2 separate regions of the Homo sapiens genome follow, and region 1 is linked to region 2. The links come from fine-mapping of genetic effects on gene expression. A gene starts in region 2. The other region holds a variant in brackets. All regions are shown on one strand. Distances are between the middles of the regions. Region 1 holds the start of FBP2 (fructose-bisphosphatase 2). Region 2 holds the start of FBP1 (fructose-bisphosphatase 1).

Evidence for each region.
Region 1: its variant is fine-mapped to the expression of FBP1 in naive CD8 T cells (Schmiedel 2018, PIP 0.95).

Annotation. Positions count from the first base shown.
Region 1 is chr9:94,593,228-94,601,560 of GRCh38, reverse strand. It overlaps FBP2 (fructose-bisphosphatase 2), which reads left to right and starts at 7,737. Exons shown (of 7, transcript NM_003837.4): 1 at 7,737-8,004. The coding sequence starts at 7,835. The variant TTG/G (reference allele first, on the strand shown) is at 4,701.
Region 2 is chr9:94,634,323-94,642,655 of GRCh38, reverse strand. It overlaps FBP1 (fructose-bisphosphatase 1), which reads left to right and starts at 3,138. Exons shown (of 7, transcript NM_000507.4): 1 at 3,138-3,515. The coding sequence starts at 3,346. RefSeq lists a silencer at 3,005-3,064.

The DNA of each region.
Region 1 (8,333 bases), 41 kb after region 2:
GGCTGAGGCAGGAGAATGGCATGAACCCGGGAGGCAGAGCTTGCAGTGAGCCGAGATCACACCACTGCACTGCAGCCTGGGCGACAGAGCGAGACTCGTCTCAAAAAAAAAAAAAAAAAAAGAAAAAAGAATGAGGGTCTTTGCAGATCTAATTAAAGTAAGGATTAAGATGAGATGAGCCTAGATTACCTACATTAGGATGGGTCCTCCTCTGAAGCCATGCATTTTTGTACAGGTTCATGACATGGCAGGAGCCTGGAGGCCTAAGCCACCGCCATGTCGATGTCAGCCTGGGACCAGAAGGAGAGACAAACCTTTGCTGTGCTAAGCCGTGGGGATTTCAGGTTTATTTGTTGCTGCACGATAACATACGCTATCCTGACTAAACTAGACCAAGCTTGGCAATATTTTTAACCTCTCTGAGTCTCCCTTTCTTCATTTGCAAAATGTTAATTGTAATATCTATTGTAGTCAAGGCCATTTTCATCGTAGGTAACAGAAACCCATTTATTCTGCTAAAGCAGAAAGGCAATTTGTTGGAAAGCTTCAGGGGACTCTCATGAAACCTAGCACCCACTGCTTTCCTAACCCCGAGGACACACCCTTAGTCCGTCCTGGCATTGTCAGCCAATCCACTGTGTCTCCATGTCTCACACCAAGTTCCCCGGAGAAAAAAACCTGACGTCTTAGCTTGTGTCCAGTTAGCTGCAGCCATAGACCCGGGTCATATAAGACAAACGTGGCCTTGGGTTTTCTTTTTATGGGCAGGGCACGCCTCTCTCTTAGATGGGGATCGTGGGCTGAGCAGATACCCTAAAGGGTCTGCCGTGCTGGAAGCAGAAATGCTGAGGTTTCATGAAAGAGCGTTTGTTGAGATCACTGGAGACGGGGCATGGAAGGCATTCTAACAGAGTTTTGCTAACAGAGAATATGCTCTCAGCTAGTACTGTAGAGTCACAGTCCAGATCCTAGACTTCAGGTGGGGGCCCCGCCCTATGAACTGCCCTAAGACTGCCTTACTGTTCAGAGACTCTGTTTGTCCTTACTACTTCCGCCCAGGCCTGTGAGGGCCTTTCACCAAGCACAGCAAGCCCATAAATAGCTCTGTGATCACCAATGCATCAGTGGCGCTGAAAAAAGCGTGAGCTGGACGCTGCCCCCCCCTTCCTCTGGGCCTTCCAGATGCCCCGTGTGTCCACGCTGTTGTGTGCCCTGAAAGAACTTTGGCATTTGCTGAAAGGTCACCAGCTGCAATTTCAGATCATGTAGGTAACTCGAACTTCCAACATTTAAATGTAGCTGAAAGGGGCATGACAGCTGCACAGGTGCCAGCCTGGGCTGGAGGGTGGCAGAAATAGCAGGCCCTCCCTTGGATCCCTTTACGGGGGGAGCTGACTTATACATGGCACTGGCCAATCCCCCTCCCTCCTGATCCCCAAATTATCCAGGCTTCTGCTCATCCTTGACACCCACAGTGCCGGACAACCGGCGCCTCTCCAGAGATCTGCTCATAACACTGGCTTGTTTGTTTCACTTCCAATCTGTTGTGAACAGATATGTTAATAAAACATAATAAGCCGAGCGCAGTGGCTCACGCCTATAATCCCAGCACTTTGGGAGGCCAAGACAGGCTTATCACCTGAGGTCAGGAGTTTGAGACCAGCCTGCCCAATATCATGAAACCCCATCTCTACTAAAAATACAAAAGGTAGCCAGGCATGGTGGTGCGTGCCTGTAGTCCCAGCTACTCGTGAGCTGAGATGGGAGAATCACTTGAACCTGGAAGATGGAGGTTGCAGTGAGCCGAGATCGTGCCACGGCACTCCAGTCTGGGCAACACAGCGAGACTCTGTCTCAAAAAACAAAACAAACAAAAAGCATAATAAAAATAATTACAGGAGTGGCTAATAAGCACCTGCTCAACATCACTAATCATTAGGAAGATGCAACTACTCTAAGCCACAGTGAGATACCACCTCACACCCATTGGGATGGTTACTGTAAAAACAAACAAACAGAAAATAACAAGTGCTGGCAATAAGGTGGAGACCCTGGGACTCTTGCTCACTGCTGGGGAGTGTGAAATGGTGCAGCCGCTGTGGAAAATGGTGCAGCAGTTCCTCCAGAAATTAGACAGACAATTACCATATGATCCTGCAGGTCCACCTCTGGGCACATCCCCGAGAGAATCAAAAGCAGGGCCTTGAACAGATGTTTGCACGCTGTGCTCATGGCAGCATTACTCACACTAGCCCAGAGGTGGAGGCAACCCAAGCGGCCATAGAGGATGAATGGGTGAACAGACTGTGGCGTGTCCATACCAGGGAATGCTGTTGAGCCTCAGAGAGGAGGGAACTCTGACCCATGCCACAGCATGCGGGGATGGTGAGGACATTGTGCTGAGTGAAATAAGCCAGTCGCAGCAGGACAGATACTGTATGGTCTATGAGGGACCCAGTGTAGCCAAATTCATAGAGACAGCAGAATGGCGGGTGCCAGGGACTAGGTGTTGGGAGGGGGAATGGGGAGTTCTTGTTTAATGGGTACAGAATTTCAGTTTGCAAAATTTGAAATTGGGATTATGACTATAATTGGGGTCTAGAACTGTTCTATCATGCAAACCCCCATTGCCCTGTCCCCTCCCCACACCCCTACCCCTGGCAGCCATGAGAGTTATCTGTCCCCACAGGTTTGCATTCTGGAGAGTCCCCTACAAATGGAATGAGACTGTAGATACTCGCTGGAGACCACTGCTGTCACTCAGCACAATGCCTCTGAGACTCGCCTAAGTGCCACACGTGACACTAGTGTTTGTGTTGTTAATAGTATTCCATTGTGGCCGGGCGCAGTGGCTCATGCCTTTAATCCCAGCACTTTGGGAGGCCGAGGCGGGCGGATCACGAGGTCAGGAGATTGAGACCATCCTGGCTAATACGGTGAAACCCCGTCTCTACTAAAAATACAAAAACAAAATTAGCCGGGCGTGGTGGCAGGTGCCTGTTGTCCCAGCTACTCAGGAGGCTGAGGCAGGAGAATGGCGTGAACCCGGGAGGCCGAGGTCATGCCACTGCACCCCAGCCTGGGCAACAGAGCGAGACTCCGCCTCAAAAAAAATAGTATTCCGTTGTATGGCTCTCCCAGTGTGTTTACCCATTCACTGTTAAGGAGATTTTGGGTGTTTGCAGTTTCTAGTTTAACTAGAACTGCTATAAACATCTGTGTGTGGGTTTTTGTGTGAATACACATTTTCAGCATTGTTTTGCGCCATCACAGGGGAAACCTTCTTTTTTTTTGTTTTGAGACAGAGTCTTGCTCTGTCGCCCAGGCTGGAGTGCAGTGGCACAATCTCAGCTCACTGCGAGCTCTGCCTCCTGGGTTCACGCCATTCTCCTGCCTCAGCCTCCCGAGTAGCTGGGACTACAGGTGCCCGCCACCATGCCCGGCTAATTTTTTTCTGTGTTTTTAGTAGAGATGCGTGTTAGCCAGGATGGTCTTGATCTCCTGACCTCGTGATCTGCCTGCTTCGGCCTCCCAAAGTGCTGGGATTACAGGTGTGAGCCACCGTGCCCAGCCGGAGACCTTCTTAATCAGATAACATTAGCTTCAAAATGAAACCTGAAAACTAATCAACCAGGCCTCCGTCTTCACCCTGCAGTCATTTACTGGACCAGAACTTGGAAGATCCAGCCACTCTATTTCTGTAGTGATGTCAAAGGAATCATCATTGGTTTCCCCATGTGAAAGGCAAAGCTTATTTGTTAATGGCAACATGACGTGTTAGGATCAAGGAAAGGTCCATTCCGCAGTTTTCACAATTCCCAGAGCTCTTGGGAAAGGAAGAGTTTTCCAAGTTTGATCCTCATGATATCAAAATTAAAATGTTCTTACCCAAAAAATGATAACTCCTGTTATTAGCTTATTATTATTATTAAACTGATACTGAGTGTCAGATGGGGTGAACAGATTAATACAAAGTGGCATCTCTATTTAGATGAGTCTTTCATTAAACAGGAACACACAGAGTAAAACACACTGGAATGGCCCTTTCTCCAGCTTCCAATAGGGAAGTTGGATTGATTATTATGTTGGCAGTGGAGCACCTTCCAGAAGAAACATGAGCTAGAAATGATACCCAAGTCTTTACCTTACCCTTAGCAACTGACAGAAGTGAAGCCATTGCAGAAGGCTCTCTTGCTAATAACTTTTTTTCCCCAGCATATTTCTCAATGTGACAGTATTGTTCTGAATGATGAAGGCAACCACTTTTCATTTGGATTCAGAAACACTTGGAAGCAGTGATAATATGTCTTTTCTTTTCTTCTTCTTCTTTTTTTTTTTTTTGAGATGGAGTCTCACTCTGTTGTCCAGGCTGGAGTGCAATGGTGCGATCTCGGCTCGCTGCAACCTTCGCCTCCCAGGTTCAAGCAATTCTCCTGCCTCAGCCTCCTAAGGAGCTAGGACTACAGGTGCACACCACCATGCCCAGCTAGTTTTTTGTATTTTTAGTAGAGATGGAGTTTCTCCACGTTAGCCAGTATGGTCTCGATCTCCTGACCTCGTGATCCGCCTGCCTTGGCCTCCCAAAGTGCTGGGATTACAGGTGTGAGTCACTGCACCTGGCCGAAAATGTGTGTTTTTAAAACTAAGTGAAGATAATACAGTTAGGGATCATGAAGTCTAATCCCATTTTTTTTTTTTTT[TTG/G]AGACAGACTCTCAATGTCACCCAGGCTGCAGTGCAGTGGTGCCATCTTGGCTCACGGCAACCTCTGCCTCCCAGGTTCAAGTGATCCTCCCACCTCAGCCTCCTGAGTAGCTGGGACTACAGGTGCACGCCACTACACTGGCTAATTTTTGTATTTTTTTTATAGAGATGGGGTTTCACCATGTTGGCCAGGCTGGTCTTGAACTCCTGGGCTCAAGTGATCCCCCTGCCTTGGCCTCCCAAAGTGCTGGGATTACAGGTGTGAGCCACTGTGCTCAGCTGGATCTCATTTTTAAATTGAGGCATCTGAGTCCCGGAGGGCTTTGATTCCCGGCCCAGGCTTCTTTCCTTTGGGTATAGATTTAGCAATACTCTGGTCTGACCCAGGCAGATGTTCTTGTTTTATTATACATAGCGATCTCTCTTGTTAGAACTCAATTCTAAGCTCATGTCTTATTCTATGTTCTAATTGTGTTAACAGGCATATGTGCATTGTCGTGTATGGTGCTCAGTCATCTAGGGAGGAGGAGCATCCTAGAATGGGAGAAAGTATCATATAAGAGAAAGAACGCTAACCTCAGGTAGCTCTGGGCTGAGATTCTAGCTAGTAGCTGTGTTATCCCTAGGAAGCCCTAGTTTCCTCATCTGTAAAAATAGCACTACTGGATCAAATAATTGGGTGGATTAATGTGTGCCACATACTGAGATAGAGGTGTCATCTGTCTCCATCTATCCATTCACCTCAGTGTTGAAAGTTGAAATAGATTGAATGAAAATCACAAAAAGGGTATGGGATCCTGTATTTGTTCTATTAAGAGGTAGCATATTTCTTGGTAAGTGAAGATAGACCCCCCCACACCCCCGCGAAAAGAATTAGAACATTGTCACATAGCAGTTCCTCTTCTGGGGTTGTATCTTACTGAAGCACTTGCCCCAATATAAGGATGTTTGTTGCATTACTATTTGAGGAGCCAACTTACCTAAATTATCTGAATGTCCGCAAGCTGGAATGATCCAAGCCTCTGTGTGCTGACTTGGACATCTTCCCATAATATTTGCTTTCTGGAACTAAAAACATATATAAATAACATATATATATATTTGGGATCTTAAACCTGCATATTAAGATCTACTGGTAGATGTTAGTTTTATCTGAAAGTTTCCACATAAATTGTGAGCACCAATGCCCATCTCAACCATTTGGTTGCCCTCCTCAACCAGTTTGGTTGATCCAATGCCAGCGCCCAGCTCCCACTGCAGGCATCACCACACGACCCTGATCTGGCAGACGCTGTGCACAGGGACGTCTACGGGGGTGGGAGGATGGGTTCCAGGGAAACTGTTCTTTCTTAATAAAAAGGAACTGATGTGGTTGGAGCTGCCCTTGCTCCCCTCTTTGCATCTTCAACGTGGGCCAGATGTTCAGAACTGCAGTGACATTTTGTGCCCCCAGGATGCCAAGCAAGGGGCACAATCCAGCCGACCAAGGATGACAGAGACGAGACAGAGAGGGGTCCCAGTGGAACCAAGAACAGCTGAATGAACACCAGCCACCACCTCCTAGTGCACTCCTGGTCTATGAGGAAATAAACCCCCACGTGTAAATTGCTCTAGTTGTTCTATTTCTTGCAGCTGAACACATTCTAATCGACATAACTGTCAGGGGAAAAGACCTTCAGAGAAATGTGCATGTTGTACTGTTTTGTGAAATGAGATTATGTATGATTGCACAATAGTTGTGAGCACATTGAAAGACTGGAAGGGCGGCTGGGCGTGATGGCTCACGCCTGTAATCCCAGCACTTTGGGAGGCCGAGGCGGGCGGATCACGAGGTCAGGAAATCGAGACCATCCTGGCTAACACGGTGAAACCCCGTCTCTACTAAAAATACAAAAAATTAGCCAAGCGTCGTGGCAGGCGCCTGTAGTCCCAGCTACTCGGGAGGCTGAGGCAGGAGAATAGCGTGAACCTGGAAGGCGGAGCTTGCAGTGAGCCGAGATCACGCCACTGCACTCCAGCCTGGGCGACAGAGTGAGACTCCATCTCAAAAAAAAAAAAAAAAAAAAAAAAAAAAACTGGAAGGGCAATAATAGGTAACAAAGTACTGAGCACCTACTATACTAGGTACATCTCATTGCAGCCACTCTATAAGATGGATGCTTCACGGTTATGCTCATTTAAGAGTGAGACAACTGAGGTTCCAAGGGGTTTAATAACTTTCTCAAATCATGCAACCAACAGATAGCTAGCTTGGGACTCACAGCCAGGTCTGGCTGGCCCTAGAGAAAGTGCTTCCACCACCATATGCACCCCACCAGTGCCTACTGGCTGCACAGACCGCCACCAGCCCTAGCAGCAGTGATTTCTGGAGAGTGGGATGGGAGAATGGGCTGGTGGTGAGGAGGTTTGTCTTTATCCACTTCTTTAGTGTTTCCTTTTTAACAAGCAATTTTTGTTACAAAAGTGGACATCCAGAGATATTGACAAAATAACACTGGTGCCAGGAACTGTGCTAGGAATATAATAGTTTTCTTCCGGATCTGGATCTCTACTGTGGATATCCACTGGTCATACATGCCTACTGGAAATAAAAAGCATTCTTTCCTAACTTATTCCAAACCCTGGCTAAAGGAATTCTGGGGTTGCCATTATGTTACTATGTGACCTACGTCCCAGATAAGGAACCTGCGAATCTGCCACCTCCGCCCTCGGGAGAGCCAGGCCCTGCAGTCACTATATGTGAAGAATCCTTTGGAGCCTGGAATAAGAGGGTTTTATGCATCATTTTTTAATCAACTGGATTTCTCACCTCCCACCTGTGCCTAAATGGTGGCTTCTTGGTATCTTGAAAGGGGGTGCTCAGCAGGAGAAAGCAGCTCCATGTTTCTGGGCAGCCCGTCCTATTTACAGACTGCTGCGGCTCCCTGGCAGCTGCCACAGTCCCCGAGGCCAGAGGGAGTTCCTTGAGGGCCCCAGCAGTTGTTTGAGTCATGTGTTTTGGGCCCTTTTCCTTAGAGATCCTGGCAGGGCCAGCACAGATTTCTTATCGGCTTCCACACTGCGGAGCTGCAGCCCTCAGAAGTAAGCAAGGTTTCCTGCCGGGAGAAAAGGATTTGAAGCATTCCAGCCAAAATGACGGACAGAAGCCCCTTCGAAACCGACATGCTCACCCTGACCCGCTACGTTATGGAAAAGGGGCGTCAGGCCAAAGGGACTGGGGAGCTCACCCAGCTGCTGAACTCAATGCTGACGGCCATCAAAGCCATCTCCTCGGCTGTGCGCAAGGCCGGTCTGGCCCACCTGTGAGTCCTGGGGAGCAGGCATGGGGCACAGAGCACCCCAGGCCCAGGCAGGGGTGTGGGAGCTGCAGGTGCTTTGGCAAGAAACTGGGTCCAAAGCTTATTGGCCCTGTGTGCCCTAGATGGAAGCTGCATTTCAAGTTCCTATCATGTGTGCTTTGATAAAGGGGCCTTTGACTTGTTTTGAGAAAGGAACGAAAACATGCTATGAAGAAATACACATATAATTTTTCCAGTTATTATAATGATACCAAGTGCAGTGGCTTGTTGCATTAAAATATGTATTGTGTTATCATGACTTGTACTTGCACAGAGAGAGTCTCACTGGAACA
Region 2 (8,333 bases):
TGACTGAGCTAGACAGGGGTCTCCTCCACGTATTCAGTGTGTCCCCTGTGTGTAGCTCTGAGCTAAGCACTCTGCCAATGCCATCTCATTTCAGCCCGATGACACCACTGCCAGATGGAACCATTATTCCACTATATGGATGAACAAACTGGGTTTACAGAGATTAGGTAACTGGTCCGAGATCTCTGGCTGCTGAGGGCTGGAGCTGGGACTCAAACAAGTTTGCTTAATGCAGATCCCAAGCTCTTCACCTCTTATCAGGGATGGTGTCCAATGAGGGTTGGCTGGACTAGATGACTTTTACGGTCCTAGCCAATCCAAGATCCTGAGGGACTGAGAGTCTGGCAAGTAAAGGGGCACACTCCCCTAGTTACTAGCTCTAGCTCTCCCCTAGTAACTAGTTACTATGCCAAAAATACTAGTCATCACATTTCAGTTCTTTTTTTTTTTTTTGAGATTGAATCTCGCTCTGTTGCCCAGGCTGGAGTGCAGCGGCAGGATCTTGACTCACTGCAACTTCTGTCTCCCGGGTTCAAGCGATTCTCCTGCCTCAGCCTCCTGAGTAGCTGGAATTACAGGTGCACACCACCATGCCCGGCTAATTTTTTATTTTAGTAGAGATGGGTTTCACCATGTTGGCCAGGCTGGTCTTGAACTCCTGACCTCAAGATCTGCCCGCCTCAGCCTCCAGTTTGTTTGTTTTTCTTTTTTTTTTTTTTTTTTGAGATGGAGTTTTGTTCTTGATGCCCAGGCTGGACTGCAATGGTGCCATCTCTGCTCACTGCAATCTCCGCCTCCCAGGTTCAAGCGATTCTCCTGCCTCAGCCTCCTGAGTAGCTGGAATTACAGGCATGCACCACCATGCCCAGCTAATTTTTGTACTTTTAGTAGAGACGGGGTTTCTCCATGTTGGTCAGGCTGGTCTCGAGCTCCCAACCTCAGGTGATCTGCCCGCCTCGGCCTCCCAAAGTGAAGTGCTGGGATTACAGGTGTGAGCCAGTGAGCCGGGCCTATTTGAGTTTTTATGTTTAAGGATGTATTTCTCTTACTATTTTTTTTAACACAGGGTTTTTCCTGAAAAGTTGCCTGAGGAACAAAGAGTTAAATAAGACCCTTAAAGGATCAACTCTCTTTGCCAGGCATCTAAGTCCCCTCTGGGGCTTTGAGGAGACAGTCGCTGTCTTTCCTGGTGGTACCACCACCTTCCTTCATTCAACGCCGCCGCATCTGACAACCCTGGGCACAGGAATCTGCACCCCAGGTCTCCACGGTGAATCCAGCAGTCAATTTTCAGAGCTTGTCCTGCCTGCCCCATCCACACCGCTTGGCACATGGGTCAGCCCGCCTTTACTTACCTTCTTCATCTGGCTTCCCGGATGTCACATCTCTTGGTTTTTGGTTGGTTTTTCCAGTTGGCTTTTCCAATTTATACCTGCAGCATGGATCTCTCCTCTGAACTCCAGATACATAAATCTGTCTATTTGACATTGCCTTGGATGTCTAGAAGGCATTTCAAACTTAGCAGGTCCCACACTTAGCTCCTAATTGTCAGTCCTGCCTCCAGCACACGCCCCTCTCGGTGTTCCCCATCGCAGTCGAGGACAACTGCATTCTTCTAGTTTCTCAGGCCTCAAACCTTAGAATCATCCGAGACTCCTGTCTCTCACATATCTCATCTGTCAACGAATCCCATCAGCTCTACCTTCAAAATATGTCCAGAATCCACCACCTCCACTGCTAACACCTGGCTCACTATCTCCTAGTAACCTGGAGGGCACTGTCTTCAGTCTGATCTTCACACAGTAGCCGCAGTATGAAGACACAGGGTAGACCATGCCTCTCTTCTTCTCCAAACTCTCCAGTGGGTTCCTCCTAGTCAAAGTCAAACCTCACTTGGCCCTCTAGACCTCACCTCTGCATCCTCCCGCTGGCCTTATCTCCTCCACCTCTGACCCTTGCTAGCTCTATTTCAGCTCCACCGGTCTCCTGGCCATTCCCTGAACCTGAAACATGGTCTCCTACCCCAGGGCCTGTGCACTGGCTCTCCCGGTGAGGAAACCGCTCTCCTTCCCATCTCCACCGGCGCGTTGCATCCTTCACCTCTTTGCTCACATATCCCTTTCTCAGAGAAGCTTTTACTGAGGCCTCTGCTCACCCTCTTCTCCCCTCCACATTCCGTGTCTTCCTTTTCTATTTCGTTTCTCTCTATGGTACTTATGGCTTATGTAACAAACTAATCTATTGTTTATATATTTATTTTTACTGTTTCTCTGTGAAAACGTACACTCGAAAAGGGCAGGAGTTTTGTCTGTTTGGATCAGGCTCCACCCCTGGAAGGTAGGACAGTGTTCAGCACAGCAGGTGCTCAATAGGTGTTGTTTCGTGAATCAGCACATCAATTGCAGCATTGTGGCTACCAGGGGGTCAGGATGCGGGCGGTGGAGCCCTCTGGCCTTTGTGTGGTAGCCGAGGACTCTGTGTCAGCGACCGTTTTCCGGGAAACTTCCGGGCGAGACTCACATCTTGGAAATTCAAATACTCAATAGCTCTCGAATTCTAGGAATCTTGAGAAGAGGCCTGGATTAAGGATTCAGACGTGGGCCCTCAGATGGGTGAGAAACGGGGACTCTGTGTCTCCTAGCGGGGACAGAAGGGCCAGGTGACAGGCCAGGCAGAGTGGACGGGGCTTGGGCAGGGGGCGGGGGCAGGCAGCCACACGGGGCAGGAGCTGCAGAGCTAAAGCCAGGCCATGTGGACTGGCTGCGGGTTTCGCTGCCTAGCTGGTGGCATTGAGCAAGTTACTTAACCTTTCTGAACTTCCGTTTTATGATTTTGGAGGAAACAGTCATAGCTTTCTCTCTGGCAGAGTCCGATGGCCCGAGTCCCGCTCCACAGTGCGGGTGGAGGGCACGGAGGGGTGTGTGTGGGGGGCGACAGCCCAGGAAGACTAGGGGGCGGCAGGGCGCGTGGGGGCGGGGGTTGGGAGACCGCAGGGAGGATCCCCGACCTTGTCTGAAGATCCAAGCAGGCGGAGCCGCGGTCTGGTCCGCGGGGTAGGCGGGGCGCAAGAGTGTTCCCGGGGGCGGGGGGCCGACCCGCGTCTAAAGGTTTCCGCGATTCACCCGCCGGCGCCTGGCCTGGCCCAGTTGCACCACGAGCGCTGCGGACACTCGGGGCGGCAGTCGGTCTGTCAGTCCTCCCGCCAGGTCCCGCGGCCCGCACCTGCCGCCCGCACCTGCAGCTCCGCACCTGCGGCCAGTGCCTACTGCCCTCTCTTGCCGCCCGCACCTGCAGCCCCGCACCTGCCGCTTGCACCTGCAGCCCCGCGCTCTACCCGGTTCAAGCATGGCTGACCAGGCGCCCTTCGACACGGACGTCAACACCCTGACCCGCTTCGTCATGGAGGAGGGCAGGAAGGCCCGCGGCACGGGCGAGTTGACCCAGCTGCTCAACTCGCTCTGCACAGCAGTCAAAGCCATCTCTTCGGCGGTGCGCAAGGCGGGCATCGCGCACCTGTGAGTCGGGCCTTGGGCGGTGGGCCCCGTCCTGTCTGTCTGCCTGGGGAGCCTGCCCGGCGGGCTGACGTTGGGCCCTCTGAGCCTCCTGCCGTCAGCCTCTGTCTGTCCGTCTGATGTCTGAGCGCCTCTCTCGCTCTCTGTCTGGTAGCCCCTCTCTCCAGAAGCTGGCTCAGCCTCACTCAAGTCCTCATCTCCTCCCTTGACCTTGGAGGGGCCCACCTGGGGGTCCGTCTCACAGGTGTACACCTGATTCCATCTTGCATTCCTCTTCTCTGCCCTGAGCAGCCTGCCTCGTACCCCTCTCAGCCGGCCAAGTGTGGGCACCTGGCCTGCCCGTCATACCCGCCCTAGCCTCAGACAGGAAAGTGCTAGCTCAGGTGCCTTCCTTCCCCATTTCTTCTTTGTCCTCCTTCACTCTTTCTGCAATTAGGGACCCAAGTCAGGTTTCTAATCCAGTTATCTCTGACCTGAAACAAGACCTGTTAGGAGCGAGTGTCCCCCCCGCCCCCCCCGCAAGCAGGCTGGGAGGTCTCCTGTGTGTCCAGAGCCTTTAGGAGCAGCAGGGCTTGTGTGCAAAGGAGCTCCCGTGGGCTGCCCCTTGCTGGGACAGTTGCCATGCTGTGCCAGAAACAGGAAACACCCAGGGCTTCAAAACCCCTATCGATTTGCAATGATGGTGTGTGCAGCCTCTGCCCAATTAGTGGAAAGCTCAAAAGTGGTTTGTAGAATGGTTCTGAATGCGCTATGGAGTGCATCTCGAACGTCACTGGGCACAGGAATCATTTGGGGATCTTGGTAAGATGTGTGCCCTCCTTCCATAGCTCTGGGACAGGTCCTGAGATTCTGCATTTCTAAGAAGTTCTCCTGTGGTGGGTGCTGCCCATCAGATACTGTTTGTCTACTCATCACATTGTGAGTAGCAAGGGGTCAAGTGGAGTGGAGACTCAAAGGACCCCTTCTTGTGAGGTTTTTTGTAAGTCACACAACATCCTTTCGTTTGTGTTGGTGTGCACAGGTATTTTCTTTTTCTTTTCTTTTTTTTTTTTTTTTTGAGATGGAATTTTGCTCTTGTTGCCCAGGCTGGAGTGCAATGGTGCGATCTTGGCTCACCGCAACCTCTGCCTCCCAGGTTCAAGCGATTCTCCTGCCTCAGTCTCCCGAGTAGCTGGGATTACAGGCATGTGCCACCATGCCCAGCTAATTTTGTAATTTTTTTTAGTAGAAACGGGGTTTCTCCATGTTGGTCAGGCTGGTCTCGAACTCCCGACCTCCGGTGATGCCTTGGCCTCCCAAAGTGCTGGGATTACAGGCATGAGCCGCCGTGCGCAGGTATTTTCTAGCTAACTGATCCACACTTTTAACTGAAGTGTAACTGGGTTTTCAGATTGTCCATACACTTTACTAACATTCCCCGCACTTATGCACACTATAAAAATGACACATGATGGGCTGGGCGCGTAGGCTCTAGCCTGTCATCCCAGCACTTTGGGAGGCCGAAACAGGTGGATTGCCTGAGGTCAGGAGTTCAAGACCAACCTGATCAACATGGTGAAACCCCGTCTCTACCAAAAATTAGCTGGGTGTGGTGGCAGGCGCCTGTAATCCCAGCTACTCGGGAGGCTGAGGAAGGAGAATTGCTTGAACCCAGGAGGCAGAGGTTGCAGTGAGCCGAGATCGCATCATTGCACTCCAGCCTGCGCGACAAGAGCGTGACTTTGTCTTAAAAAAAAAAAAAAAAGACGCATGATGCTCAGAGCTGACCTGAACAAATACAACCCTGCTACTTGGGTTTGGAATGCATTTCTCCATTCTTAAAAACTCTTCTCCGCCCCGCATCCTGCAATCTAGATTCCTTTTCTTACTGGCAGGCTGTCTGGCTTTGGTCCCACAGTATGGACTGGTGGAGGTAATTCATGTAAAGGAGTGGTATGATCACATTTATTTTTGAATATTAAGCAGACATGTTAAGGAAGGTGATGACTCCATTACTGTTGCCTCTGGCCCCTCTTAATAATACATTCCTAAGGATTCTTATTTTAGAAACATACCCAGGTGAAATCTTAAGCTTTAATTTACAGCTAGTATAGGTGGCTCACAGCTTTAACTGCCTTTGAGGACCAGGGATATATTTTAAAAAGAGGGCTTGTCGACTGGGTGTGGTGGCTCACACCTGTAATCCCAGCACTTTGGGAGGCTGAGACGGGTAGATCACTCAAAGTCCAGGTGTTTGAGACCAGCCTGGCCAACATGGTGAAACCCTGTCTCTACTAAAAACACAAAAATTAGCCAGGCATGGTGGCAGGCGCCTGTAATCCCAGCTACTTGGGAGGCTGAGGCAGGAGAATTGCTTGAACCCGGGAGGCGGAGGTTGCAGTGAGCCCAGATCGTGCCACTCTACTCCAGCCTGGCGACCGAGTAAGACTCTGTCTCAAAAAAAGAAAAAAAAGGGCTTGTCATGTCTGATATTGTTTAAAAAATGTGTCAGTACCTTTCACACCCCTAGAGAGACTGAGAAATGTAAGATGTGTTTTGAGGTGTCCCACTGTCTAAGTAACCTTAGACAGTGGGACCTTGGATAGTGAGATTTTGATGGTGGGGCCTGGATGAAGCATGTTAATTTTGGCTACGTAAGGTATGCGTTTTATTTATTTATTTATTTTGAGATAGAGTCGCACTCTGTTGCCCAGGCTGGAGTGCAGTGGTGTGATAATGGCTCACTGCAGCCTCAACCTCCCAGGCTGAATTGGTGCTCCCACCTCAGCCTCCCCTGTAGCTGGGACTACAGGCATGTGCCACCATGCCGGATAATTTTTGTGTTTTTGTAGAGATGGGGTTTTGTTATGTTGCCCAGGCTGGTCTCAAATTCCTGGGCTCAAGCGATCTGCCCACCTTGGCCTCCCAAAATGCTGGGATTACAGGTATGAGCCACTGTGCCTGGCCAATATGTGTACTTTTATACTAGATAGTTGTGAATACCAGGTTTTAAAGAAATACTATGTTGCACTCATTGACAAAAATTTAAACCATTCAAAAGAATTCAAGGGAAGAGTGAAACCCACCCCATATATATCCCATGGGGTATCCACTGCAAATAATTTACTGCTTATTTTTCCGGATACTCTTTTACAGTCATATAAGTTTACACATGAACACATATTTACATATGCCTATAATAGCAGACAAAATGGGATCACAATACACATTTCTGTAGTTTGCTTTGTTATTTAACATTATTCAAGAAACATCCATTAATATCGGGACATCTACATCTACCTCCTTTTAACTGCTGTGTGCTGCTCCCCTGCACACATCATGAGGTATTGAAGTTTTTCTCTATTTTGGGGCACTTTGGTTTTTACTAGCCTTTGGGTATTACAGTGCTGTACCCTTGGAACTGGTGTGCATGCCTGGTTGTTGGGGTAGCTGACAGGACTAGATGCTGGACACTGAGGTGATCTTGTGGGAAGTTCAGCGTTTGGCCATTTTCAGTATCACATGTCATCAGGCAGGTAGCATGATTCTCAAGCCAGGCCCCCAACCTACATTCATTCCAGGCATTGAAATCCAGAAAGAAAAACCAGCATTCCTGCAAAGATCTTGTTAGTGCTGAAGACCGGACCTAGAAGAGCATGTACCCAGAGGGACGGGGTGATTGCAGATTTGCAGGAACCTCACTGGAGCCAGTTTAGGGAGCTCACCCAGGATCATTATGGAAACATCAGGAGTTTAAGCACAGAGCCTGGTGTAACCTAAAGTTGCTATTGTAGTCACTTTCATTGCTCCTGTTAAAATGTTCATGGAATCATTGAGTTTTAGACTGAAAGAGACTCAACAGTCAGCTAGTCTATCACCTCCTCATACAGAAGAGGACCCTGAGACCGAGGAAGATGAGATGACTTGGCCTGTGGCCGGGATCTCAGGAACCCCGGATTGGAGGTCTTTTGGCCACACTACACATCTCTTCCTTTATTTTTTAGAAATCAATTAGAATTCACCAAACTCTAAATCTCATCTATTAGTTAACTGGTTTTTTTTTTTTTTTTTTTTTTTTGAGACAGGGCCTCACTCTCACTCAGGCTGGTGTGCAGTGGTGCAATCTCAGCTTACTGCAACCTCTGCCTCCCGGGTTCAAGTGATTCTCCTGCCTCAATTTCCCGAGTAGCTGAGATTACAGGCGTACACTACCATACCTGGCTAATTTTTGTATTTTTAGTAGAGATGGGATTTTGCCAAGTTGACCAGGGTCGAACTGGCCTCAAGTGATCCACCTGCCTCGGCCTCCCAAAGTGCTGGGATTAGAAGTGTGAGCCACTGCGCCCGGCCTAATTTTTGTATTTTTAGTAGAGACAGGGTTTAGCCATGTTGGCCAGGCGACATTTTTGATGTGAATTCAGGCTTAGATACCAAGGAGTCATTGCTTTGGGCAAATGTGCCCTGGGAGACTTCCCTCTGGGCTTCTGGCTCCCTCCATCCACTCTTGGGAGAGAAACTGTGCAGATCAGAACAGTCTGCAACTTGAAGTCAAGCTGATGAAGTTGTGGTTCAAATGTCAAATTCGAGTGTTGTCCACTTTGCATTCCTTTGGGAGAAAGTGGTGCTCCAGTGGCTTCAGGTTTTTTGTTTTGTGGAGTTGACTTCCCTTTGTATCCATTTCCAAATCACTGACTGAAGAATTCACTGATTTCATTCAATTAACAAAATATTACTGAACATCCACCATGTACAAAGTTCCAGAAGACGAGAACAACACAGAGTTTACTCTGTAGGAAAAAATATTTGTATCGTTCTAACACGCAATAGAGGTTTTGAAAGATG